7 linked regions of the Homo sapiens genome follow. The protein of the gene in region 3 interacts with the protein of the main gene of each other region in a pairwise test. Each region holds a gene or a part of one and is shown on either strand. Other genes may lie near its edges.

Region 1 (4,511 bases), on a different chromosome or scaffold from region 3:
TTGAGACAGGGTCTCACTCTATTGCCCAGGCTAGAGTGCAGCAGCATGATCTCAGCTCCCTGCAACCTCTGCCTCCTGGGCTCAAGCAATCCTCCCACCTCAGCTGGGACTACAGGTATGCGCCACCACGTCCAGCTCATTTTTGTATTTTTTTGTAGAGACGGGTTTGCCATGTCATCCAGGCTGATCTCAAACTCCTGCACTCAAAAGATCCGCCTGCCTCATAAGCCACCGCACTGGGCCTCTGCTGATTTTATTCTAACTTAATTTTTTTTCACCTTAAATGGCGGAGCTAACAACGGATTCAATTTAGCTATTCACTCGAAGTAATAATACTCTGAAAAGCACTTAAAAAATCATAAAACCAATTCAAAATCATAATGAATAAGATTGAAGAAATCTTTTTTTTTAAAGTTTTTTGCTACAAAATTCTGAATCAACATTTGCTACAGTCAAAACAAAGCAGTATTTTTCCTTTTTAAAAGAACAGCATTTATCTTAATTAACTCAGTAAACTAAGAGACTAACTTAATATCTCCACATTTGATATTTTAAAATTAATACCTAAAGTTATTCTATCCTGGTACCATGTGAAAATCTGAATAAAGCCTTCAGGTTTATAAATCTAAATTGTACCTCTGGTATTTTTGACCTTAACAGTGACAAATAAAAAGGTTAAAGTGATACAGAAATAAAAGCAATAACAACAACAAACCAATAACTCATTAAGTGACTAAGACTTAAAATATATGTTAAGTGGAAAACAGTTATTTTTACTTACAAGTTAGTAACTGGCTCTCCTTTCAACGGAGGTAGGAGGTTTCCAGAGCCAATTAAACAGTTGTGCACTATAGTCAGACTCTGTAGAATATCATCTCTAGAAAAAAAAAAAAGACATTTTCATATTTCCAAATCCCTATTTAATAAGCCTGCTAGAGCCTAGCACAGAAGTTTTCTCACGTGGGGATATAAATGATTAAGGTAAAGAAATAGCAAATGTCTTCAGTTTACCAACTTAACAGTGAAGAACAATTAAATATATATTTATTGCTAACACTATGCCTGCTTACATTTAAACAGGCTCTAAGTAAATCACAAGTAACAATAATTAACTGCCCTTTGTGAAACAACTGTTAATTTAAGCATCCCTTTACCAAAGACCACTGCCACTAACAAAAAGAGGAAATAATGCTACAGAAGATCTTCCAGCTTATTCCATCTTTTAAAAATGGGACTAAACATTTACTTCCAAAAAGCAGTTCAGAGTACGACAGAGTTGATGTTAGTCAGTCACACTTCTTTCTCCAAGTGCATTCTTAAATCTGCTTATGAAAAATTTGTGGTGTTTGATACATTAATTTTCTTGCTATTATTTTAGAAACTTTCAAACTATGAAAGTCTAATGGTTTCAAATACTTATTTCTTGTTAAATACCTGTGGGAGAGGGAAAAAAAAATCTCATAAAAATAATTCTTAAAATAAAATTTTGAGAACCCAATAAAATCTTAGCTGAGTCTAGGAAAACAGGCATTCCTTTCAAAGGAGGCATATCTACACACACCTTCCAAAAGACAAGTGAAATTGCTAAGTAGAAGGTAATAAAAAAAATTAGAAAAAGAAACCCACAATTTTTGGGTTTAAAATGTTTAAATGTTGTTAAATTTTCTGTTATACAACATTATATTAAATGATTTTCTAAGTACATGTATAGCAGATTTTCAAAACACAATTGAAAATTAATACATGAGATATGCCACAGATAAAGCCAAAAAAGACTTCTTTAGTCTGCAACTGAATAACTCTAATTATAAAATAAAACCAACCTAGACATTTCAAGTTTTCCATCCCCACAATGCTGGAGTTTGACGAGCTCAGGCTGAAGAAAGGAGTCCAAAAGATAAAAGGCAAAAGACACTTCTTCTGAAGAAGGAACATGCCACTGGATTCCCAGATTCCACAAGTCCCCGGGTTTGCCCCAGTCCTAGAAGAGAACAGCATCTACTCAGCAAGTTGAGAAATTAAAAACAACAACAACAAACCCACATACATATACACAATTTTTAAAATTTAAAAGAAAATGTACACATAATCCAAACCTAAGGTAGCAAATGATATACAAAAAAGTAGCATGAAAACAACATCTTACTGCCTCTTCGTTATCACTCCTGAAAAAAGTCTCCCCGAAGAGTACTCATTATAATATGAGTTTGCTCTAAGAGTGATACTGTAAGAGTGATGATGAGTTTAAGTGAGGCTTAGTTTAGCAATAAAATTATATTGAACTATAGACATTAGATAAGGAATATATACGAAGTTGTTTCACATATCAATAGGAAAGAAAACTAGAGTTTCAGTTCCATGCAAAGTGAGACAGCACAAGTTTCACATATTCCAATAATAGTTTCAATAATCTATCTTAAAAGTAAAAAACTAACATATGCAAGAAAAAATAACACTTTGAATCCCTTAAAACAAAAAATCAACATATTCTTGAATCCTAAAGTACTGAAAATGCTTGCCTTGATAGGAAAGTATTCAGAAGGAGGCTTGTCAAAGCCACCTGGCACACTGCAGTATTCTGTAGGGTAGATAAGTGTGGTAGAACGGAGAAGATGATGCAAAAGGTTACAAGACAGAGTGTAACCCTGCTTACAGGTTAAATGTAGGGTTCTTTGGAGAATCTTTACAAGCTGCTCCCTATAAAGAAGCAACTTCCTTCCATCCACTCGAGTAATCTAAAAGGAGGGAAAAAATAGTTGAAGATATTTTGGTTAAAAGAACAAGAACCAATCATTAATGCAAAGTTCAATGTTTGGCCACTAACCTAGTGTTTCTCTAAATGACTTTAATTAATTTTAGGATTGTCACTTTAACTGCATTCTAATAATTAATTGTTTTTTGAAATCAAACACATTTTCTGAGCTTAAGCTTTCATGCACCATAGTAACATCCCTTTCAAAAGAGTCTATTCTATTCAAGCAATTCTCCTGCCTCAGCCTCCCAAGTAGCTGGAATTACAGGTACACGCCACCATGCCCAGATAATTTTTGTATTTTTAGTAGAGACAAGGTTTCACCATGTTGGCCAGGATGGTCTCTAACTCCTGACCTAGTGATCCGCCCGCCTCGGCCTCCCAAAGTGCTGGGATTACAGGTGTGAGCCACCACGCCTGGCCCTAATTAAACTTCTGAAAAAAATGATAAAGAAAACTGAAGTTGGCCGGGCGCGGTGGCTCACGCCTGTAATCCCAGCACTTTGGGAGGCCGAGGCGGGCGGATCACGAGGTCAGGAGATCGAGACCATCCCGGCTAAAACGGTGAAACCCCGTCTCTACTAAAAATACAAAAAATTAGCCGGGCGTAGTGGCGGGCGCCTGTAGTCCCAGCTACTTGGGAGGCTGAGGCAGGAGAATGGCGTGAACCCGGGAGGCGGAGCTTGCAGTGAGCCGAGATCGTGCCACTGCACTCCAGCCTGGGCGACAGAGCGAGACTCCGTCTCAAAAAAAAGAAAACTGAAGTTTGGGCCAGGCGCGGTGGCTCACACCTGTAACCCCAGCACTTTGGGAGGCTGAGGCAGGCGGATCACGAGGTCAGGACATTGAGACCATTCTGGCTAACACAGTGAAACCCCGTCTCTACTAAAAATACAAAAAATTAGCCGGGCGTGGTGGCGGATGCCTGTAGTCCCAGCTACTTGGGAGGCTGAGGCAGGAGAATGGCGTGAAGCTGGGAGGCGGAGTTTGCAGTGAGCCGAGATTGCACCACTGCACTCCAGCGTGGGCGATAGTGAGACAAAAAGAAGAAAAAAGAAAAGAAAAGAAAAGAAAAGAAAACTGAAGTTTGATTGATGGCCAAATTTAAAGTGTAGACCAAAAAAATTCCCAAATCTGATCAACTTTTTCAATTAATGAGTTACCCATATTAGAATTAACTGGTAAAACTAAGTAGATGGCTGAACATGCAGTGATCAACTACACCACTCCTTTGACAATAAGAGTATGACATATTCTGATCTTCTGAAGCCTCATCAAATTTCCAAAACTCTGACTTTTCATATGTTTTAAAGTCATTTTGTCAGAAAGAGCTAAATCCTAAAAGCAAGTCAGTGTTTTCACAGTCATGTTTCTTATTCCAAAGATTTACAATACCTCAGACAAAAGTTGAAGATTCCATAGTAATTCCTTGTCTAGCTCTTCATCATTTAATACATCATCATCTAAAAACAGCAAAATACTATTAGGGGGAAAAACCTATGCATTCAACTAAATATAGCATTTTAAAATACTTCTATTTAATATTTCCAATAGCTGAGGAAAACCTCTTTTAGGAAGACTTTTTATTTCTTCTTCATGAAGCTGAGCTTGTTCCAAAAGGAGGTAGAAACAGAATTTTCAAGAAAATAAACACACCAACCAAGACTTCTGCCCCTCTATATCTCACAAAATAACTGATATTTTTGAAGGTAACCTCTGAATGGTGGTTGTATAAGAATATTAATAAAGTAACATTTTT
Region 2 (4,511 bases), on a different chromosome or scaffold from region 3:
GGACTAAGTTTACCTGTGGTTTTGATGGCTGTGGTTCCACATACAAAAATGCAAGAGGAATGCAGAAACATTTACGGAAGGTTCATCCATACCATTTCAAGCCCAAAAAGATAAAGACGAAAGATCTGTTTCCCTCTTTGGGTAATGAACATAATCAGACAACTGAAAAGTTGGATGCAGAACCTAAACCCTGCTCAGATACAAACAGTGACTCCCCAGATGAAGGTCTAGATCACAATATTCACATTAAATGTAAACGAGAACATCAAGGTTATTCCTCAGAATCCTCCATTTGTGCTTCTAAAAGGCCCTGTACAGAGGATACCATGTTGGAACTTCTGTTACGCTTGAAACATTTAAGCTTGAAAAACTCAATAACACATGGATCTTTCTCAGGGTCATTGCAGGGGTACCCATCCAGTGGTGCTAAGTCTCTTCAGTCAGTTTCATCTATCTCAGACCTTAATTTTCAGAATCAAGATGAAAACATGCCAAGTCAGTACCTTGCACAGTTGGCGGCTAAGCCGTTTTTCTGTGAGCTTCAAGGATGCAAATATGAATTTGTGACCAGAGAGGCTCTGTTAATGCATTATCTTAAAAAGCATAATTATTCAAAAGAAAAAGTCCTTCAGTTAACCATGTTCCAACATCGGTATTCCCCATTTCAGTGTCATATTTGCCAAAGGTCATTTACAAGAAAAACACACCTTAGGATTCATTATAAAAATAAACATCAAATTGGCAGTGACAGAGCAACTCACAAACTATTAGATAATGAAAAGTGTGATCATGAAGGCCCATGTTCAGTAGATAGGTTGAAAGGTGATTGTTCTGCAGAACTTGGAGGTGATCCCAGTAGTAACTCTGAGAAACCACACTGTCATCCTAAAAAGGATGAATGTAGTTCTGAAACAGATTTGGAATCATCTTGTGAAGAAACAGAAAGTAAAACATCTGACATTTCATCACCAATAGGCAGCCATAGAGAAGAACAAGAAGGAAGAGAGGGCAGAGGTAGCAGGCGAACTGTTGCTAAAGGAAATCTGTGTTATATTTTGAATAAATACCACAAACCATTCCATTGTATTCATAAAACTTGCAACTCCTCATTCACCAATCTAAAAGGCTTAATTCGCCATTACAGAACTGTACATCAGTACAACAAAGAACAGTTATGTTTGGAGAAAGACAAAGCAAGAACCAAAAGGGAACTTGTCAAATGTAAAAAGATATTTGCTTGCAAATATAAGGAATGTAATAAACGCTTCCTGTGTTCCAAAGCTCTTGCTAAGCACTGTAGTGATTCTCATAACCTAGACCATATTGAAGAGCCTAAAGTACTTTCCGAAGCTGGATCTGCAGCAAGGTTTTCTTGTAACCAGCCTCAGTGCCCTGCTGTTTTTTATACATTCAACAAGTTGAAGCACCACTTGATGGAACAGCATAATATTGAAGGGGAAATACATTCAGATTATGAAATTCATTGTGATCTTAATGGCTGTGGCCAGATTTTCACCCATCGCAGTAATTACTCACAACATGTATATTACCGACATAAAGACTATTATGATGATTTGTTTAGAAGCCAGAAAGTAGCAAATGAGAGACTACTAAGGAGTGAAAAGGTATGTCAAACAGCTGATACTCAGGGGCATGAACATCAGACCACCAGGAGATCATTTAATGCTAAGTCTAAAAAATGTGGCTTAATCAAAGAAAAGAAAGCCCCAATAAGTTTTAAAACCAGAGCTGAGGCCCTCCATATGTGTGTGGAGCACTCTGAGCACACACAGTACCCCTGCATGGTTCAAGGATGCTTATCTGTGGTGAAGTTGGAGAGCAGCATTGTGAGGCATTACAAACGCACTCATCAGATGAGTAGTGCCTATTTAGAGCAACAGATGGAGAATCTTGTTGTTTGCGTTAAGTACGGTACCAAAATTAAGGAGGAACCCCCTTCTGAAGCAGATCCCTGTATAAAGAAAGAAGAAAATAGAAGCTGTGAATCAGAGCGCACAGAACACAGCCATTCCCCGGGTGACAGTAGTGCACCCATCCAGAACACTGATTGCTGTCATTCAAGTGAAAGGGATGGAGGTCAGAAAGGGTGCATAGAAAGCAGCTCAGTATTTGATGCAGATACTCTGCTCTACAGGGGAACTTTGAAATGTAATCATAGTTCCAAAACCACTTCCCTAGAACAGTGTAATATAGTTCAGCCTCCTCCTCCTTGTAAAATAGAAAATTCCATACCTAATCCCAATGGGACTGAAAGTGGGACTTATTTCACAAGTTTCCAGCTGCCTTTACCAAGGATCAAAGAATCAGAAACTAGGCAGCATAGTTCAGGGCAAGAAAACACTGTAAAAAATCCAACCCATGTCCCAAAAGAGAATTTTAGGAAACATTCACAGCCCCGGTCATTTGATTTGAAGACTTACAAACCTATGGGATTTGAATCTTCATTTCTGAAATTTATTCAGGAAAGTGAAGAGAAAGAAGATGATTTTGATGATTGGGAGCCTTCAGAGCACTTAACATTAAGTAATTCTTCACAGTCCAGTAATGATTTAACAGGGAATGTTGTGGCAAATAATATGGTGAATGACAGTGAACCTGAAGTTGACATACCTCATTCTTCCAGTGACTCTACAATTCATGAGAACCTGACTGCAATCCCACCTTTAATAGTAGCTGAAACAACAACAGTTCCTTCCTTGGAAAACCTGAGGGTTGTATTGGACAAAGCATTAACAGACTGTGGAGAGCTTGCCTTAAAACAGCTTCATTATCTTCGGCCAGTGGTGGTTCTTGAAAGATCTAAGTTTTCCACACCAATTTTAGACTTATTTCCAACAAAAAAGACAGATGAGCTTTGTGTAGGAAGTTCATAAGTAGCAATTTTGTTTTAGTAACAGACTGGCTCCAACACTGCAACATGGGGACATTTGCCAACTCGAACAAAGGCTGAGAAGCAGCCACACCGTTGTTTAGGGTAGAATAGGCTGTGTATTTACATGAATGTATAATATCTATGTCAGCAGTATTGGCTGAGTCCATTAGCTCTCCAGTTGGTTTAATGATTGGGTTTATTTTTGTTTGTTTGTTTATTAAAAAAATGGAACTGTACACTTGTTTGGTGCTAATTAATACATCAAAATATACTGGGGCTTCCTTTTTCAAATTAAGTGTGCATGATTGTATATGGAACAAATACTAAGGTCCCAGGGTGGGAGGGCTAGGGAAAGGGATATGGAGTTCTTACTTGACTTGAATGTGCACCTGAGGGTGCTTTGTGTAATATATTGTACACTACAGCATCTTATATTTTTTGAGTTGAGTTTCAATAAATTACAATTTTTCACCCATTCGTTGTTTACTCATAATGAGCTTTCATGCCACATGTAAACTGAAATTGCACTTGTATTTTCTGAAATATGCCATTCACATTTTACCCCAGTAATTTTTTTATTTATTATTAGCTAAATCATTCAGAACAAGGTTCTTTTTTTTTTTTTTTTTTTTAAGACAGAGTTTCGTTCTTGTTGCCCAAGCTGGAGTGCAATGGTGCAGTCTCGACTCACTGCAACCTCCTCCTCCCAGGTTCAAGTTATTCTCCTGCCCCGGCCTCCCAAAGTGCTGGGATTACAGGCATGAGCCACCGTGCCCATCCCAGAACAAGGTTCTTTTTATCTTAAAATTTTTGTTTTTGTGGAAAGATAATTCTGAGATTAATTAGCTGCGGGAGTCAAGATAGCTCCCAGAGGATGTCCAGATGTTGGCCGAGTAGAAAGGAGAGGATATGCCAACCTAGAACATGAAGGACGTAGCAAATTCAGAGGGCATGTTTCTAGGAAACTACAAATAATTTGATATGCTGGCAATAAAAGGGGAACAAGAGAGTGACATCATTGTAGAGATAGCAGGAACTAAATCATGAAGACTAAGGAGTTTGGATTTGAGTCTATAGGCATATATCAGTTGAAGTGTGGAGTGCTCACTTGATTTGAGAAGCTGAAATTGGAAACAGTATACTTGAAGTAATTGAGGCAAGCTTGGTGAGTGTATTTACTGACAATTGCAGCAGAAGGCAGAGTAGATGAAGTATTTAAGGAGACAGGATTTTGGGGGCTTGGAGAGTGAAGGAAAAGATTTGGTACTGATGCAACCATTTTAAGTAGGTATACAAAGAAGGAATGAATATTTGGGAAGATAATGGAAACCAAGGTGAGTTTGGCTTTTAGATGTGTTGAGTTTCATTGGACTGTGGGATGTCTGTCTAATGAGGATAGCAGTATATCCTTTTAATACAGCAGCTTCATTTCCTGTTGCTTGTGAAGTTTTCAACTACTTTCATTAGCTAGTAATGAAGTGACTCAGACAACTAACATCTCTTTCTCATCCTTGTGGTTAGATTTTTTTTTTTTTTCAACGGAGTCTTGCTTTGTCGCTCAGGCTGGAGTGCAGTGGCGCGATCTCGACTCACTGCAACCTCCGCCCCTCCAGGTTTA
Region 3 (3,575 bases):
ATTGCTAGTGCCCCACAATGTCCCCTTGTTAGGCTGTGAGTAACTTGAGAGTGGGAGTGAGTTCATTTATCTTTAAATTTCCAGTGCCTATACGTATTTGTCACTCAATAAATGTTTTATGAATTTATTTACTTTGGAAAAATAGAATATATGGCTATATAAATGATGACTATTTAGGAAATGGGATTTTAACAACTCATTTGATACGGTTTGGCTGTGTCCTCATCCAAATCTCATCTTCAACTGCAGTTCCCATAATCCCCACGTGTCGTGGGAGGGACCCAGTGGGAGGCAATGGAATCATGGGGGTGGTTTCCCCCATGCCATTCTTGTGATAGTGAGGAAGTTCTCATGATATCTGATGGTTTTACAAGGGGCTTCTCCCTTTGCTTGGTTCTCATTCTTCACTCTCCTGCCACCTTGTGAAAAAGGACTTGTTTGCTTTCCCTTCTGCCACGATTTTAAGTTTTCTGTGAGTCGATTAAACCTCTTTCCTTTATAAATTACCCAGTCTCAGGTATACCCTTTTAGCAGCATGAGAATGGACTAATACACACTTATGTAAATCCTTGAGATTTTAATCTTATCTCTATAATCACCAGCCCAATTAGAACCTCCTAAACTCAGTCTCGTTTATTATTCTGGGTTAGTCAAACCTACATAAGTCTGTAGTGAAACACAGAAATACACAGACCACTGCATGCATCATACCCAACCAGCATTGGGGAGGTCATTTATTGTCTCTAAAATAAAACAAAAGACACAGTGTTTTGTTTCTCTTTTATTGCAACCCACTGCAAGGTCAAAGATTCACGGAAATATAGAAACTACAAACCGGGTGAATTTTCTTTATCCACTCAAAAAGACATTAAAGACAAAGGACCAGAATTTTCCACTACAGCAATATATTTCATAGTCTTTATTCTGAAAATACTGTTGACATTTTGGAGAGAATAAAAAGCCCTGCATTAAACGTGTTCACATGTATTTATGACATTCTAAGCAAAAAAAAGAAACTCTATATTGCCCAGAAAAATTATTTTAAGCCTCATTTCAAAGCATCTAATGAGAACACATTCAACAACCATCACAGGACCACTCAAGGTGATGCTTTTTTCTGGCTGTTTTTTTTTTTTTTTTTTTTTTTTTTTGAGATTAATGCTTTGAGGCTGGATATGGTATTTCTACGGATTTCTACAAATGTACCAAAGCAGTTTTCCAGATTATGTTGCATCAGGCTTTCTGGATTAGTCAACATTTTAGAGAATAAGTGCAAGTCCCCACCCCACCCCCACCCCCCCAAGCTAAAGCATGTTATAGTGCTGTACTTTAGATTCAAACAATGCAACATTTAAAAAAATCAATTATACATTCTGAAACCATTTGACAACCAAACTGTAACACTCCAAAGGTTATTACAACTTTGAACTGAAATGGTACCATCTATATCATAGATGGCTCTCCCTTCTTTTGTCTTTTTTAACTATTTAAAATATAGTATGACATATATAAAAATTAAACTTTTGCATATTCACTCAAGCTACTATTACTATACATACTGTCTTATAAATTAGTTTTGGATTAAAAATCAGTTAAAATATTGTGAAATAAGATATTTCAGTGGTGGGGAAGTGGATATGAAAATGATACAGTTCAATGTGTAAGAAGAAATATAGTTTATTAATGTTAAACAGCTTTTTTCTTACACAAATTTTATTCCCTTCAAATTAAATTAGAAACCCATTTAGTTATGGGAAGAATACTCATGGCGCTTACTGACTAGATTTTCCTAACCGATTGGGATTAAAACAAAAATGCCACATCAGAAACATGTTGACATAATCAAAGGAAACAGTTGTTTACAAAAAAAGAGAATCATTAGAAATCAGTAAATGGCATTCAAATGTAAAGCTATCTTGTTTCTTACAGCTAATGTCATGTTAGCAATGTGAGACTTAAAGAAAGTGAAACTCAAACCTCAGTATATCTGTTAAAGACCAAATAACAGTTATATTCACTCAGGGAAAAATAAATAGCAACTTCACAAGTTAGGGTTTTGTTTCTAGTTCTACTGTGAAAGATAATCACTCTTTAGCTTAAAAAGGCTCCCTGATGTCCTCATTATAAATCTAGACACAGGAACAGTTATTTGAGCCTGAGTCCCTATTATGAATTAATTGTAAAGATGTGTTAAATCAAAACATATATTCATTTACTGATAGGTCTTGTCTTAACTGAAGCTGGCAATCCTTAATTAAACAAAGAAATGCTTATTTCTGACAAGTGTAAACAGAATTTCAATGAACAGATTTTCTAATTTTCTTTCTTAACTCATATATTAGCTAGCAATAGATCTTTGCAGTAGCATGAGAACTAGTCCAAAATGACAACATGCATATATCCAAAAAACCTGTTCAAGAACCCAAAGCAAAGCAAAAAGAGCAACAACAGTAGAAAGATTGTCTACTTATATCTCACTCATGAATCTTCTATTAATGTGACTACCCTCTCGTATCTCAGAAATAGACTTTAATAATTACCAAAATTAAGAAAATAATGAAATGATCTGTAGTTTTTAAAATAACTGCACACCATTAATTACATTGGTGGCTTCAATGCTAAGATTAGTTTCAAATATCATTAAAATATATCCTGACCAGTTACTATCCAGGAAATAAAAGCTAACACAATGTTAACATAAAACCAACTAAAATATTTAGTGCTCAACAGAATGCATTTGTAGAATAATGTATAATTAACTTTCGTGAGCTGGCCAGGAGAGTTCAGACTGTTGCCTCTATATAACAAATTTAGAAAAGGCTTTATTCTTTCTAGTCCCCAAGTCACCCACCAGATAGCAAGTTGGCCACCCGAGGATACACGGAGTTAGGCAGTGCCACAGTGGATAACATGCTACCTTAGTGGCCTGGAAGAAGGCTTCTCTGTCAGGAAACGATCTAGAGTAGATCAGAGCCCTGGTGTAGATGTGCACACGTGTGAATATGTGAGAGAGTGTAAGTGCCTGTACGTATAACATCACTTCTGCTGTAGTCATCATCAGTAGAAGTGCACAATTCATCCCATGTAAAAAGAAGGCCTTCTTACTTGGACATCTCCAAGTGGCAGCAATTAGAAGCTCAAAATAATACATCCAATTTTTTGACTCTATATTAAAAATAATTTTTTTTTAAAGAGAAAGAAGCCTTTGAAGTTAAAAACTAAAAAGTTTGTGGCTTTCATAATCTTTAATTTCTAAGAAAAAAAGCCAGCTCACTTGGGAACAAATGACAACTGCACTTTTGGTATGCAGTATGCAAACAAGACACAAATACACATACTTGAACACACACAGACAGGTGACAGTTAAAACCCTTCCGAGAGATCAGCTCCCCAAATGTACAATTCTCCTCTGCTCTGCTGAATGATCCCAGTGGACTAGGCGAGGCAGGAGCGCTAGGAGGAGGCGGCAGACATGTTGGGGGTCCAGCCCATCTGATAGGCTCTCTCCAAGGTCCTCTTGCAGTCCTGCAGGACGGTGCTGAAGGTGATGTGGGGGTACTGCTGCACCAGCTGTT
Region 4 (4,511 bases), on a different chromosome or scaffold from region 3:
TGGTGTACGGAATGACAGGAAACACTGGCTAGGGCTATAATTGTGAGGGAGCATTGTTTGCTATTTTAAGGAGCTTGAACTTGACCTTTGGAGGTGCCACTGATATACTTTAAGCAGGAAGTAATATAATCTGCTGATTTTTCCTTGGTTCCAGAGGAATAAGATGGGAAGTTAAGAGTTTCTTAACTTCTGCTTCTACAGTAGATAACTAGAAAAGTGGAAGCATTAAGAGAAGAGAGTAAATCCCAAAAACGACAGAGACAAAAAGGGCAGGAATGGAGGGGAGTGAAGTAATATTGTCAAATACTACAGTGGGATCGGGTCAGACGAAGCCTGAGTTATCCTCTGAACTGGGCAATGCAGAGCTCAGAGTGACTGTGGTGGAAATAGTTTTGATGCAGAGGTAGGGCAGATGCCAGGTGCCATCAGTTACTCTCAGAGCACACAAGAGTCAGTATGGCTGACTACATGACACCTAAAAATGCTAGCTGGGAGCAGAACTAAGACAAAATCCCCATTACCTGGTTCTGTATTAGTGATCATTAAAAGTCCACAAGACTCCATGAATAGTCATTAAAATCTTAGATGTACCAGTAAGCTGTGAGTAACCTGTTACTTACTTTGCTGCTATAACTGCAGTGATCGGAACTCTGAAGAGCGGACCTGCGTTAGGGGATGCTATATCATAGCCACATACCTTGAAAAAAGAATCGGTAAGTGTCAATATCCATAAACAAATGTTTAAAAGAGCGGGGGAAGGTCTAAACTACTGACAGAATAAATCAATCTACTTTTAATCAAGGTCTTAACCAGAGGTTGACACCAATTTCCTGACACTAGGTCACATAATTAATAGCAAACAGCCCAAACAAATGTATAGCAACATTTGACCAGTTGAAATGGGAAAATGAGACGTCAGGTACAAAATAAGTGCATTTTAATTACTCCCAACTGAAAAATTAGCTCAAACTAGTACTACAGACAACTTTAGATGTGGAGATACTGTTGTGATACTATTCTATGCCTGGTTTACAACTATTTGTTTAACAGATGCTTTCTTCATCTGAGTACTAAAAGGTATAACTGGCTGGGTGTGGTGGTTCACACCTGTAATCCCAAAGCCCTGGGAGGCCAAGGCAGGAGGATCACTTGAGGCCAAGAGTTCAAGACAAGACTGGGCAACATAGAGAGATCCTGTCTCTACAAAAATAAAAAAATTTAGCCAGGCTTGGTGGTGCACGCCACTAGTCCTAGCTACTCAGGAGGCTAAGGTGTGAATATCACTTGAGCCCAAGAGTTCAAGGCTGCAGCGAACCACGATCACACCACTGTACTCCAGCCTGGGCAACAGAGCAAGACTCTGTCTCTTAAAACAACAACAACAACAACAACAAGCAACTGCAGCTTTGTTTAGCTGACAAAAGAAAACACCAGTTAGAGGGAGATCTAATTGAAAGGTTCTGCTGTACCTCTTCTTTCCTTTTACTTATTCATACAAGGACAAAATATGATTCTTTAGAAACTCACTGCTTAAATGAATATAGACACACCAGAAGAACTGAATAACCTGGCAGATGGATAGGTCTAGTTATTTCTTAGCAAGAAAGCAATATATTGCAAATATACTTTGGATTTTTTTTTAACCTTTTAAACATTTTAAAGAGTGAAGAAAGTAAAAATGAAGATACATCAATACCTCTGTATAATGCAATCCTTCTCTTAAGCCCCTGGGATCCACACGTATGTTTATGTGTCTACATTGATTCATGAGTTCCAAATGGCTGGGACACTGAACCCAAGATGAATTTGAAGTCAGAGCTAAATGAAGCTGAAGGGATATTTTTTCAGAGTTTTCTGGCACGAAAAAGACCAAAAATTAAAGATGAGTATTTTTTTCCTTTTTTCCATTTAAAAATGTTACATCTTTCCAAAAAAATTTAGCGACTTGGTTTGGTTGGCTGTAAAATGCATCCAAAACACAGCTTAAATAAAACAGTCAAATAATCTTCCTTACAATTTAGATTACTCATGATTCATTTATACTTTCACCAAGCACTGGTATGACCTTAAAATAAAGAGTTTAAGTGAATGTTTTCATTACTGCACACAGGTCATAGTATTCAACTGAAATGAAGACAGCCAGATAATAGCGATGATTATTTTTGTTCACACCTAATCGAGCTGCAGTTCTCCTAGACTGCTTCTACTTTTCATTCTTCAACAGAAAGCTCTGTCTTATACCTAAGTAGGTAAAGTGGAAAAGAAATTTGATATTTTATTATCCACAATTTAATAAAGCTGTGGGTCACTGAGGCTCATTCTACTGTTTTCCCTGGTAGTTTAAGATGCTAACTAAATTGCCATTGTACAAGGACCCCAAATTGCTCTAATATTTTCTCTTATGACTAAGATTTAAAATAATCATACTGTCAATTCATGTATTCTCTTCACAACACTGGCCCAAACAGCAATTCTTTATTATGATACCACTCATTCAAACAGCAAATGTGAATACGTCAGCTTACTGCCAGCCTATTACTGACCTGTGTTCTCCGGAAATACAGGTTCAATGCCAACGCCATGATCTGAAGGTGCAGCCACCTGAACAGGATCTCGGAGGTAGATGCCACGGTTATTTCCAACAGTAACAGTAAAACCTAATTTATTAGCAAATGATGTATTCTGAACGAGGTAGTCATAGGCTTTATCAACCTAGTGAAAATAATATACATGGTAAGATATAAATGGTTGGGTCAAAAAATATTTTGTTGCAAATTACCAATCAATTTGATTTCAGTTGTAAAACAAAAAGTTAGTGTCTATATTCACCTCTCAAAACTACCTAGTACCCCAACTAAGAGGACAATTCTACATTTTTAGAAACAACACCAGTCACATCTTCCACTCCACTCTATTCACACTGTTATTCTCAAGTGACCAAATTTAGGAACTAATCCCTATGCCGTTATGATTGGCCAGTTTTTGACCTCGATTTCTTTGAATTTCTAACCTCTACATGGCCTCCATCTATTACATTTCTTGATCTTAGTGCAACAGATTTGTCTTAACTACAAAATTTGTTTGTGTATCCTTTTTGCTTGTAGTTCTATGGCCATATAATCCATAATTCAGATATACTGAATCACTGTTATAAAACAAAATATTACCCAATAATATCTAAGATATTATCTCAATGATGCTTTACAACCCATTTTTCATATAGGCAACAATACCTGAATAATACCATGTCCTTGAGCAAATACTTCTATATTGTCAGCCTTCACTGCAGTGTTTTCTAGAGCTCTTCTGACTGAATGAACTGTGTAGTCAATGTTATTAGCTTTCAGACCTAAAATTAAGAAACAAAAACAAGTAGTGTAGCACTCACTATCTGAAACCTTAGCCGCCCACCAGTATGATCGATCACCTGTAGACCCTCTGGTGTTAATGTCTTGTGTTCTAACACTCATTTTAAAATCTTTTTTGAAGACCTGAACTAAACAGTCTGACTCAAACTGCTTGCATTACATGAAGGCTTCATTCCACAAAAATCACTGTGTTCTCATTATGTGGTGGGCAGAGAGACTGGTGTGGGCTTTGTGGCGTAATATAAACGTACAAAGCAGATATCTAAAAGCATGTGAATGACATTTTCTTTCAAACACTGCTGGGTTAAACAAGATGGCTGTTGGCTGTGGTGTTCAACCCAACTGTATGTTATAAACCCCAGGGGAACTCAAGCAAAAAAGATGCTGAGGTCTCATGACAGACCAATTAAATCAGAATCTCTGAGGACTGTCCCAGAGATTGTTATTTATTAAACAACTCTCAGATGATTCTAGGGTACAGCCAGGTTGGGAATTACTGTTTTATGGGAAGAATATGGAGGCCACCAATTCATAAGATGAGTGCTGTATCATTCTTGTCCTCTCCAGAGCTCATTAAACACATAAACATTGATGATATTGTCAGACATCAGAGGAACTGACAGATAAGCCGCCTCTTAGAGAATGTACAGGAGTCTGCAAGGCCACAACATGGCAGACAGGACTTCGAGGCAGAGTGCAGTACACCCAAAGATGGAGGCCAAGAGGCCTTGAAATACCTGGTGAGGCTGAAGAGAACTAGAAAGAGGGTCATGTTAGGATCCATCCTAAGAGTGTGGGCTCAACCTAGAGAAGGATGTAGCACTTGAAGTGGTACATCATCACAGGCTTATGCTGATAGCACCAGTGTGGACAGGCCATGCTGAGGAGATGTGGTGAGCAGAAGAAACTGTGGTGTGGGTGAGAAAAGCGGGGAAGAAAGGAGGCAGAGGAGAGACAACTTAAAGAGGGACGTTTCTGAGGAGGGAGCTTCACAGCAGCCTGGCTACCCTAAATCTGAGTCCTGGCTAAGCCCAGTGCCACTCTATTTAATCCTGTGCACCACTCTAGAAATCCCTCCTTCTCTTTCTACCTCATTTTGCTCACGGCATCCATTAACCTCTAACATGCAACATCTACAGTTTT
Region 5 (4,511 bases), on a different chromosome or scaffold from region 3:
ACCCTTAAACACCCTTGCATGTAAATCATTAACAAGAGTCACATATTTAATATTATTTACGGAGATTTTTTTAAAGGTAAAATGTACATGCAGTGGACTATGTATGCTTTGGCCAATGAAACATAAGAAGTGAGTTATGTGTGTCGTTCATGGGGAGAAGATTTAAGACCCGGTGCATAATTCCCCATCGTCCATTGTCCTGTCACAAAAATGGTGGAGCAAATGTGAAGAAGTAGCCCCTCTCCCCCAATGCCAGACACACAACATGAGTAAGAAACACACTTGTGTTGTGTTAAGCCATTGAGGTTGTTGAGGGGGTTGTTGAGGGGGTTGCCTGTCACAGCGACATCACCCAGATCAGCCAAATGGAACTAGCAAAGGGACCAATTCAAAACCAGTTTTGGGGTCCTGTATCTATCACTTCTTTTGGGGATGAGTAAGGGTTGACACTGAGAAAGAAGAGAACAGGGTTTCCTCTGGAGACAGTTGTTGGTTTGTTGTGTGTTTCTCACTACCACCCAGTAACGGGCAAGTGAGAGAAAGTCCAAGAGACCCTCTTGGAGAATTGGGTGTGTAACCTTGCGTTTGTTCAACTGAACCTGGTCTACTGGGGAGGTGGTAGATGGCAATGGTAGAGTAGGCAGCTGTGTTGGAAGGAAATTGCACATCCACCTATGATGGGATGCTACTTTTTTTTTTTTTTTTTGAGATGGAGTCTTGCTCTATCTCCAGGCTGGAGTGCAGTGGCACAATCTCAGTTCACTGCAGCCTCCGCCTCCTGGGATCATGCGAGCTCACCGCAACCTCCACCTCCTGGGATCATGTGATTCCCCTGCCTCAGCCTCTCAAGTAGCGGGGATTACAGGTGGGCACCACCACACCCAGCTAATTTTTGTATTTTTAGTAGAGATGAGTTTCACCATGTTGGCTAAGATGGTCTCGATCTCCTCACCTTGTGATCCGCCTGCCTCGGCTTCCCAAAGTGCTGGGATTACAGGCATGAGCCACCGCGCCCGGCCGGGATGCTACTTTTTCCCCTTGACTAGACATGGGCCTCATAGATGGGCTTCTAAAGGCTCTTGGCTTGGTGCCAGTAGTAGGACCCAAGGACTGGAGATGTATGTTCAGATAGTCATCAACAGACAGCAGGCTGGTTCATGCCTGTAATCCCAACACTTTTGGGAGGCCGACGCCGGCAGATCACTTGAGGTCAGGAGTTCGAGACCAGCCTGGCCAACATAGTGAAACCTCGTCTCTATTAAAAATACAAAATTTAGTCAGGCGTGGTTGGAGGGCACCTGTAATTCCAGCTACTCAGGAGGCTGAGGCAGGAGAATCACTTGAACCCGGGAGGCAGAGGTTGCAGTGAGCCAAGATTGTGCCACTGCACTCCAGCCTGGGTGACAGAGTGAGACTCTGTCTCAAAGAAAAAAAAAGAAAAAGAAAAAAACAACAAAAAAAACAGACACTGGTATGACTGATATATTAATTAGCTAGGACTGCAATAACAAAGTGCCCCAGACCGGGTGTCTGAAACAACAGAAATGTATTGTCTCACAATTCTGGAGGCCACAAGTCTGAGATCAAGGTGCAGGCAGCACTGGTTCCTTCTGAGGCTGTGGGAGAGAATCTGACCAATGACTTTCTCCTAGCTGCGGTTGCCGGCAATCCTTGACATTCCTTGGCTTGTAGGTGCATCACTGCAAACTCTGCTTCGATCCTCACATGACATTCTCCGTGTGTGCAGGTTCGTCTCTATTTCCTCCTTTTATAAAGACACTGGTCACATTGGATTGGGACCTAACCTCATGACGTCATTTTAACTAATTACTTCAGTAGGCTGGGTGCAGTGGCTTGTGCCTGTAATTCCAGCACTTTGGGAGGCCGAGGCAGGTGGATCACTTCAAATCAGAAGTTCGAGACCATCCTCGCTAACATGGCGAAACCCTGTATCTACTAAAAATACAAAAATTAGCCAGGCGTGGTGGCACGCGCCTGTTGTCCCAGCTACTCTGGAGGCTGAGGCAGGAGAATCGCTTGAACCCGGGAGGTGGAGATTGCAGTGAGCCAAGATCGCACCACTGCACTCCAGCCTGGGCAACAGAGCGAGACTCCATCTCAAAAACCAAACAAACAAACTAACTAACAAAAAAACAACAACAAAACCAAACAACAACAAAAAAACCAAATTACTTCAATGATCCTATTCCCAAACAAGGTTACATTCTGAGCACCTGGGGGTTAGGACTTCCACAAAGGAATTGGAGATGCACAATTAATCTCATAACAACTTACAACAAGGGAAGCCTAGTTCATACAGGCCCCCTTCAACCCCACTTTCCCGAGCTAATCAGCTCTGGGAGTCAGCACCAGCTCACAAAGAAACCACCTGGGGAGATGGGGGTGATGAGGAGAAGAGCATCTAGGAACTCAAAGAGCACCTTATCATGCCTTCCTGACCCCAGCCTGAAGCAGGGGGGAGTGGAGATGCTTTAAATTGGACAAAAACATGGAGGTGTCACCTGGACACTTGTGGGATATTTTAATGACTGTAGTGGGTTACATGGTGAACCTCCAAAATTCATGTCCACCCAGAATTTCAGACTGTGACCGTATTTGGAAACAGGGTTTTTGTAGGTGGATTTAGTGAAGGATCTTGAGATGACATCATGGCATCATCTTGGATTTAGGGTGATCCCTAAATCCAATGACTGGTGTTTGTTTTTGTTTTTGTTTTTGTTTTTGTTTTTTTGAGACAGAGTCTCACTCTGTTGCCCAGGCTGGAATGCAGTGGTGTGATCTTGGCTCACTGCAACCTCACTACCCACACCTTCATCTCAGTAATCTGGCCTCCAGAATTGTGAGACAATACATTTCTGCTGTTTCAGACACCCACTTTGGGGCGCTTTGTTAAAAAAAAAAAATTAGCCAGGCACGGTGGTGCATGACTGTAATGCCAGCTGTTTGGGTGGCCGAGGCATGAGAATCGCTTGAGCCTGGGAGGCAGAGGTTGCAATAAGTTGAGACTCACTATAATCCAGGCATGTGCCACCACACCTGGCTAATTTTTGTAGTTTTAAGAGAGACAGGGTTTTGTCATGTTGGCCAGGCTGGTCTTGAATTCCTGGCCTCAAGCAATCTGCCCGCCTCAGCTTCCCAAAGTGCTGAAACTACAGATGTGAACTGTGCCCGGCCAGTTTTCTAGGGATTTAGATGAATATTCCACCCTTTGGACCCATAAAGGTAGCATCCCCAAACTCCTTTGTGTGTGATGCTATCTTTCAAGCACGCCTGCACTCCCTCTCCTTGAATGTGTACTTTGCAATGCAAGTACTTTTATTTGCCATAAACCTCAGTACTTTCACTATTTTTTTTTTTTTTTTGAGACAGAGTCTCGCTCTGTCACCCAGGCTGGAGTGCAGTGGCATGATCTCGGCTCACTGCAAGCTCTACCTCCCGGGTTCACGCCATTCTCCTGCCTCAGCCTCCTGAATAGCTGGGACTATAGGCACCCGCCACCACACCTGGCTAATTTTTTGTATTTTTTAGTAGAGACGGGGTTTCACCATCTTAGTCAGGATGGTCTCGATCTCCTGACCTCGTGATCCGCCTGTCTCGGCCTCCCACAGTGCTGGGATTACGGGTGTGAGCCACCGCACCCGGCCCACTTTCACTATTTTCTGACTTGTTTCTTGAATTCACTCTCGATGGTGTCAAGAGCCTGGATAATGGCTGGGTTCGAGGTCCCACCGGCGTTTGGGGACCTCCCCCAACCCACTGGTATCAGAGCTGTCTATGATGTCACCATGTCCCTTGACTTTAGCTCTGACAGTAAAATGATTATAGCCTAATGTTAATAAATCACTATGATCATATCCGCACCCTATCTACATGGATGATTCCTGGGTACTTTATCCACTCGGGCTCACCAACCTGACAGGGAGGTGCTGTTATCAATGCCCCCATCATTCAGATATGCAAATGAGGCCTCCAAAGAGCAAGTGACTTGCCCAGTGTCACATCACCAGTAGAGCAGAGCTCTGAATTATGTGAACAACTTGCCCTGCTACCTCAACAACCTATCAAGAATAGAAAATAGGCCCTAGGCTGGGCACGGTGGCCCACACCTGTAATTCCAGCACTTTGGGAGGCCAAGGTGGGAGGATTGCTAGAGCCCAGGAGTTCAAGACCAGCCTGGGGAACATAGCGAAACCCTGTCTCTACAAAAAAAATACAGAGCTGGGCATGGTGGTGTGCACCTGTAGTCCCAGCTACTTGGAGGGCTGAGGCAGGAGGATCACTTGAGCCTGGAAGGTCAAGGCTGCAGTGAGCTATGACTGCACCACTGCACTCCAGCCTGGGTGACAGAGCAAGACCCTGTCTCAAAACAAAAGGGTGGGGGGTCGGGGTCAGCAGGGTCAGGCAAGGAATGGCTACATCTTTCTAGATCCAGACTCCTCTGCAAAGAGCCTTTGTGGAATCAATGTGCCACTCTCTCTCCCACGTACTCT
Region 6 (4,511 bases), on a different chromosome or scaffold from region 3:
GTTTTTGTAAGAAGGAGAAAGGTTCTATTTAGTTTTGAGAACTCTGATGTTTATTTAGAGGCCCTGGTGACCGAGCTCCTTGCAGAGCCAGTCCTTGCTTACCCCCTCTGAGCTGCACAGCACCCCGCCCAGGAGAACTGCTCGGAAGGTATGCAAGCAGAAGAGCGGGTGGGGGAACCCCTGAGCGCATGGGGGTCACACATACCTGTCTGTGTGAGCTCTCCCATCTCACACAATGGGTGATTTGGGTAAAGAGGCAAGGAGTTCAAGGGGCTTTCGAAAGAGGCTCCGGATCCTTTTGACATGTGACTAATGAAAGCTTCCAGTTTTGGGTGATACGGTTTCCTAGAGAGATGATAGAGAGAGTTAGAGGTCAGAGTGCTCCACAAGAATCCAAACAGTTTCCAGCTTCAGCGAGCCAAATCCCACGTGTATCGCAGCCTTTTGCACCCACAGTAACAGGTACCGGCTCAATCACTTTTCAGTTCCAATTTCATTATTTCTCGACCACTGACACTGACACATGAAATCCCCTCTGTGAGGTTGGCCAGAGTTCCTAACCTCTGCTGAACTCAGTACTGTGGGATTCAGCTTCGCCGTCTATCTTCCGGCTCCCCAACCTGTGCTGCCTTCCGGGCTCGCTCTCCGGGAGGCCGCCAACACCCACCCAGCAGTCACGCCTAGGCTGGGCATCGTCCCACTCTCTCCATTCCCTGCCCCTGCACATGCTGTCTGCTCCCCATGTCTTGCAGATTCTTTCTCCTGGTGCTTCTCCATCCCCTTCTCCTTCATCCTCACAGCTACTACCTAGGTTCTGGCCTCAGGCAGCTTTTGTCTGGCTGGCAATGGGCTCTTTATTGGTCTTCTTGCTGATTAAGCATGCCCCTCTAATAATCTTGCCTTCTCCACCACCAGAAGGATTGATTTAAAAGGTAACTCTGACCAGTCACTGCCCTTCCCTATCACCACCTTCTGGAAGGGGCCACACACAGCCTGTCCCTCTATTCTGGCCTCGCCCTGGTACTCACTGGCCCTCTCTACCCTAATACTGTGCTCTGGCCACGCCAAGCCAAAGGCCTTCTTTCCTCCAACACACAACGCACCTCATTCTTCAACACTTCCACCACTTCCCACGAGCTATCCCTTCCTCCTAGAAAATCTACCCTATCCTTTATCAAGGTCACCCATAATCCTTAATTTTTCTGACCTCTGAAAAATCCCCCTTTAGGAAAATTGTTAACTGAATAAGATAACCAGGATCTCTATACCTCTTTACAATCCACTCCACGTTTTGGACATACAACCTCTCATTTAATATAGGGTAATAATAAATGTCAAAAAAAGTTTATATATGAGATCTGAGAGTATCTATATTTCTGCCACAAAGTATATGTGGTAAATCTTTCTAGTCACTAATATACAATTACCCTGAATAATGAAATGACCTATGAATATAAACATCTTTTCTTTGAATAATGAAGTAGCCTATGAATGTATATACATTTTCCAGCTGAAGAGAAGTGGACAGATAGAGTAGTTCATGCCTAAACTCTATAAGAATCAGCATGAAAAGAAGCAAAGATAAACTGTTCTAATGGCAAACCCCTGCTGTCTGAAGGCCCAGTTAACTTTGAAAGTGCTTTAAAAATGGCTGCCAAAATGGGTTTATTATCTATCAACAACATAAAGCTAAAAAAAAAATCCATCTTTTAAAAATACGTTTTTAAATTAGAGAATACTAATCCAGACATGTAATATAGTCTAATAAATCACCCTGGATAGCTAAAGGGAGTTATGCCTTTCCACAAAAACAGGGTACGTTATTTTGCCTGAGGCTAAAGCACATAAATGTTTGCAAACTGGGAAATAAAATGTCCAGACTGACAATGAGGCTGCCAAGAGTAATCCACATAAACAAAGGCTATCCATCAACAGGAGTCAAATGTTCTGCACCAGGCCATTATTTCAGGTTGGAGCTTTTTTTGAGGATCTGAGAAAGCTTTGCTGCCAATTTTAGAAATGGAATTTCATGACTGGAAGTGTTTGCTGAGGTGACCCAGGTTTTCAGGGCATCTGACTGCTTAATGATATCTAACTGCATTCATTCCAATGTTTTTTATTTTTGTTTTTTTTTGTTGTTGTTGTTGTGTTGTTTGTTTTTGGCATGCAAAGATGAAGATTTGTGGAAGAAAAACTTCATTTAAAGAATAGCTAACAGGCCGGGCATGGTGGCTCATGCCTGTAATCCCAGCATTTTGGGAGGCCGAGGTGGGAGGACTGCTTGGGGCCAGGAGTTTGAGACTGGCCAACATAGTGAGACCATGTCTCTACAAAAAATACAAAAACTAGCCAGGCATGGTGGCGCAGGCCTATAGTCTCAGCCACTCAGGAGGCTAAAGCAGGAGGATCACATGAGTCCAGGAGGTCGAGGCTGCAGTGAGCTGTGATTGTACTACTGTACTCTAGCCTGGGTGACAAAGAGATACCCTGTCTCAAAAAAAAAAAAAAAAAAAAGAAAAAGAAAAAGAAAAAAAACATTTGACAACAAATGGCTGTATCTTTTTAGTGGAAAGCAGACCAGGTAACTCGAGTCCTGGACCTGGATCTGACTACCCAGGCCTTGTCTGCCTGGTCCACTGCTCCATCCCTGGAGCCCAGAGGGTGCTTAGCACATAGCAGATGCTCTAAAAATATATGTGAGTGAATTCAACTGTGAAGTGTCCCATCCTTGGATGTTTCATGAAAATAGCAAGCCTTCCATAATCTGTAGAAATGAATACGATAAGTTCCCATACGGTTTGTTAAAATATTCAGATTTTGATGAAAATATAGTCGGCCCTCCATCTCTTCAGATTCTGCATTGGAAGATTCAACTGTGGATCCAAAAATACTTGGAAAAAACCCAATAAGAAATAACAATACAACAATAAAAATAATACAAATAACAACTATTTACACAGCATTTACATTGTGTTTGGCGTTATAAGTAATCTAGAGATGATGTAAAGTACATGGGAGAATGTGCGCAGGTTCTGTGTAAATACAACACCATTTTACATAAGGGACTTGAGCATCTCAGATTCTGGTATCCAAGGAGGATCCTGGAACCAATCCTCTATGGATGACTGTATTAAAACTAAAGGCTAGTGTGGATGAGACTAGTGTACTAGTCGTACACTAAAATCTATTCTCTTCTTAAGAACTTGGTTAGATCCTATTTCTGAGGTCCTGAAATGAGGTAAAGCCGCATTCGCCAACAGAACGGAAAGATGTATGCCACTTCTGGGTTCAGGCTTTCTGATCATGTGTATGCCCGGTTCACATTATCTTCCTTCCTTCCAGCCATTATTTAGGCATGGCAGCAACCAGGGTTCAACCATGTAGCCATCCCCAGGGGATGGTAGAAACAACAACCTGGAAGAAACCTGGGGCCCTGAATGACCAGGTGGAGCTGACTAGCACAATCTGGAACACACATTTCAGACCTTCACATGAGGAAGAGCTAAACTTCCTTGTTATTTAAGGTAATGCATTCATGAGTCCCTGTGCTACAAAATAAACTTACAAAATAGGTGTACCCTGACTAATGCAGACATAATTATATCCATGAAAATAAATTTTTCTTTAGGAAAAACTCATATTATTGTGGGCTCATTGAAAATCTGCTTTCATAATGAAAACTGAAATAATCAAAAGTGTTACTATCTTAAGCCTTCAAGTCATTCACTTTGGAGTCCTTATCTTCACTTTTATATGCATTATTCACATCTATTTATGCCACAAAGTTTGAGGCTGAACCCCAAGGCTAATCCACACACCCATGAGAACATTTATTGTTTATTTAAAATCTCAGCAATGACTGAGTTCTGCACAGAATGTTAAGGCAAGCAGAAGAGGCAGACGACCAGTGACACTGTTACCAGAAAACACAATCCAAAAGAGCATACATAGCTGGAAACTGGAATCACATTAGATTTTTAAAGTTCATGCCAATTAAAGAATTTATCATCTTACATATTAATAACATGAGATTATGAAAAGATAAGCCCAGTGTACTTTTCTTTGTTTTTAGCTTTCTGGACCTTTTGGTCTTACTTGATGTAATGCATTGCCCTGCTTTCCTTAGCTCTCATAACATTGCTCTCCTGACTTTTCCCCATTTGCAACATCCCTGGCCCCTTTTGAAATCCTTTTTCTCTCTGAGTACCACATGCTGGTGCTTCCCAGGACTCTGGTTTTGGCCCATCCCTCACTCCTCAGGTTCTGTCTGTAATATAAGCCCACAGCTTCAAATGCCATCAACATGCTGAAGATTCTCAACTAAACCTCTTTTTCCCAGCAAGCCAGTGCCCCTGAGCTGCAAAATTATACAGACTAGGCCAGGCAGGGTGGCTCACACCTGTAATCCCAGCACTTTGGGAGGCTGAGGTGGGCTGATCATGAGGTCAAGAGATCAAGACCATCCTGGCCAACATGGTGAAACCCCATCTCTACTAAAAAATAAAAAAAAA
Region 7 (4,511 bases), on a different chromosome or scaffold from region 3:
GGCCAGTGGATCCCATTGGTGTGGAGCTGTTTGCATCTGAGAATCTAAAGCTCCATCTCTATTCTAACAGTGCCATCAACTGGAAAGTGGAAAATTTTAGTTAGTCTATACTTTAAAAAAAAAACAAAGTTTCTTTTTTTTTTGAGATAGAGTCTCGCTCTGTCGCCCAGGCTGGAATGCAGTGGCGCGATCTTGGCTTACTGCAAGCTCCGCCTCCAGGGTTCACACCATTCTCCAGCCTCAGCCTCCCGAATAGCTGGGACTACAGGTGCCTGCCACCACGTCCGGCTAATTTTTTTTGTATTTTTAGTAGAGACGGGGTTTCACCATGTTAGCCAGGATGGTCTCAAACTCCTGACCTCGTGATCCGCCCGCCTTGGCCTCCCAAAGTGCTGGGATTACAGGCGTGAGCTACCGCACCAGGCCTTTTTTTTTTTTTTTTTTTTTGAGAGGGAGTGCTGTAGTGCAGTGGCACGAGGTTGGCTCACTGCACTGGAGTGCAGTGGAGTGCAGTGAGAGGTTGGCTCACTGCAACCTCTGCCTCCTGGGTTCAAGCGATTCTCCTGCCTCAGCCTCCGGAGTAGCTGGGATTACAGGCATGCACCACCACACCCAGCTAATTTTTTTTGTATTTTTAGTAGAGGTGGGGTTTCGCCCTGTTGGCCAGGCTGGTCTCGAACTCCTGACCTCGGGGGATCCGCCTGCCTCAGCCTCCCAAAGTGCTAGGATTACAGGCGTGAGCCACCACGCCCGTCCAAAAAAATCTAAGATTAATCTTTACTATGGCAAACTAGTATGATTCACTTTTCAGCCAAACAGATTGGTCATATCAGTTAAAACACTTAAAATTCTTTTCCCCCCCACACCTTTTTTTTTTTGGCTGAGCGCAGGGGACTTTATTCATGGTATACAACAGGGTGGGGCTCCCTAGGCCCCTCCCTCTTCAGGGTGTCTGCATGGACATTGTGAGGAGGGGAGATTCTCAGTGTGGTAGGGGACTGAGTGTGGGCAGGGACTCCCAGCAGCTGAGGGCCTCTCTCTTCCTTTCATGCTGTCGCTGGGGCTGGTGGTCCAGGGGTCTTATTCCTTGGAGGCCATGTGGGCCATGAGGTCCACCACCATATTGCTGTAGCCAAATTCGTTGTCACACCAGGAAATGAGCTTGACAAGGTGGTTGTTGAGGGCATTGCCAGCCCCAGCATGGAAGATGGAAGAGTGGGTATCACTGTTGGAGGAGACAATCTGGTGCTCAGTGTAGTCCAGGATGCCCTTGAGGGGGCCCTCTGACACCTGCTTCACCACCTTCTTGATATCATCATATTTGGCAGGTTTCTCCAGACGGTAGGTCAGGTCCATAACTGACACATTGGCAATGGGGACATGGAAGGCCATGCCATTGAGCTTCCTGTTCAGCTCGGGGATGACCTTGCCCACAGCCTTGGCAGTGCCAGTAGATGCAGGGATGATGTTCTGGAGAGCCACACAGCCCTCATGCCACAGTTTCCCGGAGGGGCCATCCACAGTCTTCTGGGTGGCAGTGATAGCGTGGACTGTGGTCATGAATCCTTCCATGATACCAAAGTTGTCATAGATGGCTTTGGCCAGGGGTGCTAAGCAGTTGGTGGTACAGGAGGCATTGCTGACGATCTTGAGACTGTTGTCATACTTCTCATGGTTCATGCCTATATAAACATGGGGGCCTCAGCAGAGGCAGCAGAGATGATGACCCTTTTGGCTCCCTGCTGCAAGTGAGCTCCAGCCTTCTCCATGGTCGTGAAGATACTGGTGGGCTCCATAATGTACTCAGCACCAGCATGGCCCCATTTGATTTTGGTGGGATCTCACTCCTGAAAGATGCTGATGGGATTTCCATTGATGACAAGCTTCCCATTCTCAGCCTTGATGGTGCCATGGGATTTGCCATGGGTGGAATCATATGGGAACATGTAGACTATGTAGTTGAGGTCAAGGAAGGGGTCACTGATGGTGAGAACATCTGCTTTACCAGAGTTAAAAGCAGCCCTGGTGACCAGCGCCCGATACTGCCAAATCTTTTTACTTTGGCCTTCACCTTCACCAGGGATGTGGCTAGCACTGCATGAGAAGATGCGGCTGTCTCTTGAATGGCAGGAGCAGGGTGCCTTAAGATTCTGCATGTTTACATAAACATAGCCCTAGAATGGTCTATTTCAGTCATTTACCCACTCAGCATTTCCGGAGTAGTATGCTTCTGTGTGAAACACATGGTCAGGTACAGGGAAACTGAGATGTATGTAACAAAGCTTCTGCCCAAAACCGACTTTCAATTACAGAAACCTAAAGATTCAAAACCAAGACTGGATGAGAAATGCTCATATGGGTGCTATAGGAGCTAAAAGAAGAACTTCTAAGTTGAGTTGGGTGCCTGGTCAAGGCTTCCCTTGAGAAAAAGCCAGAGACATGGTATCACAGAGAGATGTATGAGCAGGGCATGTAGCAAGGAGTGGAGGGAGATGACCCAAAATAGATGTCTGCTGCTTTTTCATGTATCATTTTAATGTGTTATTTCCCATTAGTTCCAAATTCCAATAAAAATGCATTGCTATTTAAATATTGTAAAGGTACTTTGTTAAGTTCTTCTGCTTGTAGGATACTCTAGAGTCTACACAGTCCTTGGACACTTGCTCAGTGTAAAACAGTTTATTGCATTTTTTATGCTGACATCCAAGTTTGTTGCAGAAAGTGGTCTGTTTTTAGGCTAAAGAGAAATTTAAGCTCACTTCTTTCTTTCTTTTTTTTTTTTTTTTTGAGACGGAGTCTCGCTCTGTCGCCCAGGCTCGAGTGCAGTGGCGTGATCTCGGCTCACTTCAAGCTCCACCTCCCAGGTTCATGCCATTCTCCTGCCTCAGCCTCCCAAGTAGCTGGGACTACAGGCGCCTGCCACCACGCCTGGCTAATTTTTTTGCATTTTTAGTAGAGACAGGGTTTCACCATGTTGGCCAGGATGGTCTCTATCTCCTGACCTCGTGATCTGCCCGCCTCGGCCTCCCAAAGTGCTGGGATTACAAGCGTGAGCCACCACGCCCGGCCTAAGCTCACTTCTTTCAAAAAGAACTCTGGAGATAAGCTCATATAAAACATTTTCTTAAACGGCTCCCACTGTTTATATGATTTGATGCCCCATTGAGATCTCCACAGGAAGCTTCAAACACATCTTGGCTCACACTTTTTCAGACCAAGGTTCTTGTCTTCTGATGAGACTCACCATGTTTCAGTACTTAGGAAAAGCTCGTTTAGAGAACAAGTAGAGAGGATTGCGTGAAGTTTATGCAGCCCCTCTTTCTTCTTAGAAATTCCAGACATTTATCTATCCTTGGATTAAGCCAGATCACCAAAAAGAGGAATTCTTGGCTGACCTCATCCTGACCCCTCATGAAACAGAGTGAAGTGCTTACTGTCTTCTACCGGAGCCTCCAGCCCCAGCCTCCTCTGAGTGATGTTGTAACACTCAGCCCTACAAAACTCCCTGTTGTATAGCTGATGTCTTCACTCAGTCACTAAACACAGTGCCCTCTTTACAAAGACTATAGGAGAAATGGCTCCTTGGTCTCAGTGCCAGGAACAATTGTTCTCATCCAAGCAGTGGGTTTGCTGTGATCTTTATGCTACATGAACCACCTACCTGATCTCTGCTGCTAGGAAACTGAGAGACAGGGCAGCAGGCTTGCCTCTGGCACGGGTACCAAACTCCTCAGCTTAGATTTCTTCGTTGGCCCCACTTCCGTCTTTACCTTATTTTGTAAGCTCTTATTTTTCTTCTCATTTCCTCTCCTACTTTAGGCTATTGAATTATCTGAGTTTTTGTAAGCTACTGAAATTCTTTAAGGAATAAATTTGGGATATAAACATGAATTAAGTATCCTTAGTTACTCTGTTTAGAAGACAAAACATATACAAATTACTAGTTTTCACATAATGACTATACTCAATAGAGCTGGCATTAAAACTGCTACTCTTGTGAATATAATTAAACTATACATTCTGTGCGGTCAGGGGTCTTGGCTAACTTGGTCACCTCTGTATCTCAAGTTGCTAGTGCTGTGCTTGGCATGTAGCAGATGCTCAGTAAATATTTCCTGAGCGATTTGAACAAACGATCTTTCAGTAACTAAAGTTTACCAGTGGTACAGTCTGTGGATGCTCAGAAGCAAAATGAAGGCCTAATGCTCTGGTGTTTCCTCCACCTTTTTTGGACACGGGTAGGGGTGTGGCAAGGGACACCGCTGACCCCTCTGATGCTCTGCTGTCTCTCTCTCTCTGCAGACTCACATTTCAAGACTTCCTCCTGGTGCGGTGGCAGGACAGTCTGTGGCAATCGAAGGTGGGGTGTGCCGCCTGGAGAGCCCAGTGAACTGACCCTTCAGGCTGAGTGTGAAGCGTCTCAGAGGCATTTCAGAACCTGAGCTTTTGGGGGTTTTTAACTGAAGTTGGTTGTTTTATCTTTCTTGTTTTATAATTCCTATTGCAACCTC

What was found.
Region 1: the proteins of FBXL17 (region 3) and PSME4 interact in a two-hybrid assay, tested with the Homo sapiens proteins (one large-scale study listed by BioGRID).
Region 2: the proteins of FBXL17 (region 3) and RLF interact in a two-hybrid assay, tested with the Homo sapiens proteins (one large-scale study listed by BioGRID).
Region 4: the proteins of FBXL17 (region 3) and TPP2 interact in a two-hybrid assay, tested with the Homo sapiens proteins (one large-scale study listed by BioGRID).
Region 5: the proteins of FBXL17 (region 3) and ACSBG2 interact in a two-hybrid assay, tested with the Homo sapiens proteins (one large-scale study listed by BioGRID).
Region 6: the proteins of FBXL17 (region 3) and PXYLP1 interact in a two-hybrid assay, tested with the Homo sapiens proteins (one large-scale study listed by BioGRID).
Region 7: the proteins of FBXL17 (region 3) and TASP1 interact in a two-hybrid assay, tested with the Homo sapiens proteins (one large-scale study listed by BioGRID).

The regions. Positions count from the first base shown.
Region 1 is NC_000002.12:53,918,370-53,922,880, forward strand, and holds part of PSME4 (proteasome activator complex subunit 4), read right to left. Parts: intron 4,216-4,511; coding exon 4,148-4,215; intron 2,736-4,147; coding exon 2,520-2,735; intron 1,982-2,519; coding exon 1,824-1,981; intron 878-1,823; coding exon 782-877; intron 1-781. UniProt on the Homo sapiens protein: Associated component of the proteasome that specifically recognizes acetylated histones and promotes ATP- and ubiquitin-independent degradation of core histones during spermatogenesis and DNA damage response.
Region 2 is NC_000001.11:40,237,554-40,242,064, forward strand, and holds the end of RLF (zinc finger protein Rlf), read left to right. Parts: coding exon 1-2,894; 3' UTR 2,895-3,368; downstream 3,369-4,511. UniProt on the Homo sapiens protein: May be involved in transcriptional regulation.
Region 3 is NC_000005.10:107,858,267-107,861,841, forward strand, and holds the end of FBXL17 (F-box/LRR-repeat protein 17), read right to left. Parts: coding exon 3,454-3,575; 3' UTR 769-3,453; downstream 1-768. UniProt on the Homo sapiens protein: Substrate-recognition component of the SCF(FBXL17) E3 ubiquitin ligase complex, a key component of a quality control pathway required to ensure functional dimerization of BTB domain-containing proteins (dimerization quality control, DQC).
Region 4 is NC_000013.11:102,634,425-102,638,935, reverse strand, and holds part of TPP2 (tripeptidyl-peptidase 2), read right to left. Parts: intron 3,350-4,511; coding exon 3,234-3,349; intron 2,713-3,233; coding exon 2,544-2,712; intron 1,855-2,543; coding exon 1,697-1,854; intron 698-1,696; coding exon 621-697; intron 1-620. UniProt on the Homo sapiens protein: Cytosolic tripeptidyl-peptidase that releases N-terminal tripeptides from polypeptides and is a component of the proteolytic cascade acting downstream of the 26S proteasome in the ubiquitin-proteasome pathway.
Region 5 is NC_000019.10:6,141,625-6,146,135, reverse strand, and holds part of ACSBG2 (long-chain-fatty-acid--CoA ligase ACSBG2), read right to left. Parts: intron 1-4,511. UniProt on the Homo sapiens protein: Catalyzes the conversion of fatty acids such as long chain and very long-chain fatty acids to their active form acyl-CoAs for both synthesis of cellular lipids, and degradation via beta-oxidation.
Region 6 is NC_000003.12:141,283,148-141,287,658, reverse strand, and holds part of PXYLP1 (2-phosphoxylose phosphatase 1), read right to left. Parts: intron 346-4,511; coding exon 206-345; intron 1-205. UniProt on the Homo sapiens protein: Responsible for the 2-O-dephosphorylation of xylose in the glycosaminoglycan-protein linkage region of proteoglycans thereby regulating the amount of mature glycosaminoglycan (GAG) chains.
Region 7 is NC_000020.11:13,390,244-13,394,754, reverse strand, and holds part of TASP1 (threonine aspartase 1 isoform 1 precursor), read left to right. Parts: intron 1-877; exon of another isoform or gene 878-2,141; intron 2,142-4,302; coding exon 4,303-4,395; 3' UTR 4,396-4,511. UniProt on the Homo sapiens protein: Protease responsible for KMT2A/MLL1 processing and activation. It also activates KMT2D/MLL2. Through substrate activation, it controls the expression of HOXA genes, and the expression of key cell cycle regulators including CCNA1, CCNB1, CCNE1 and CDKN2A.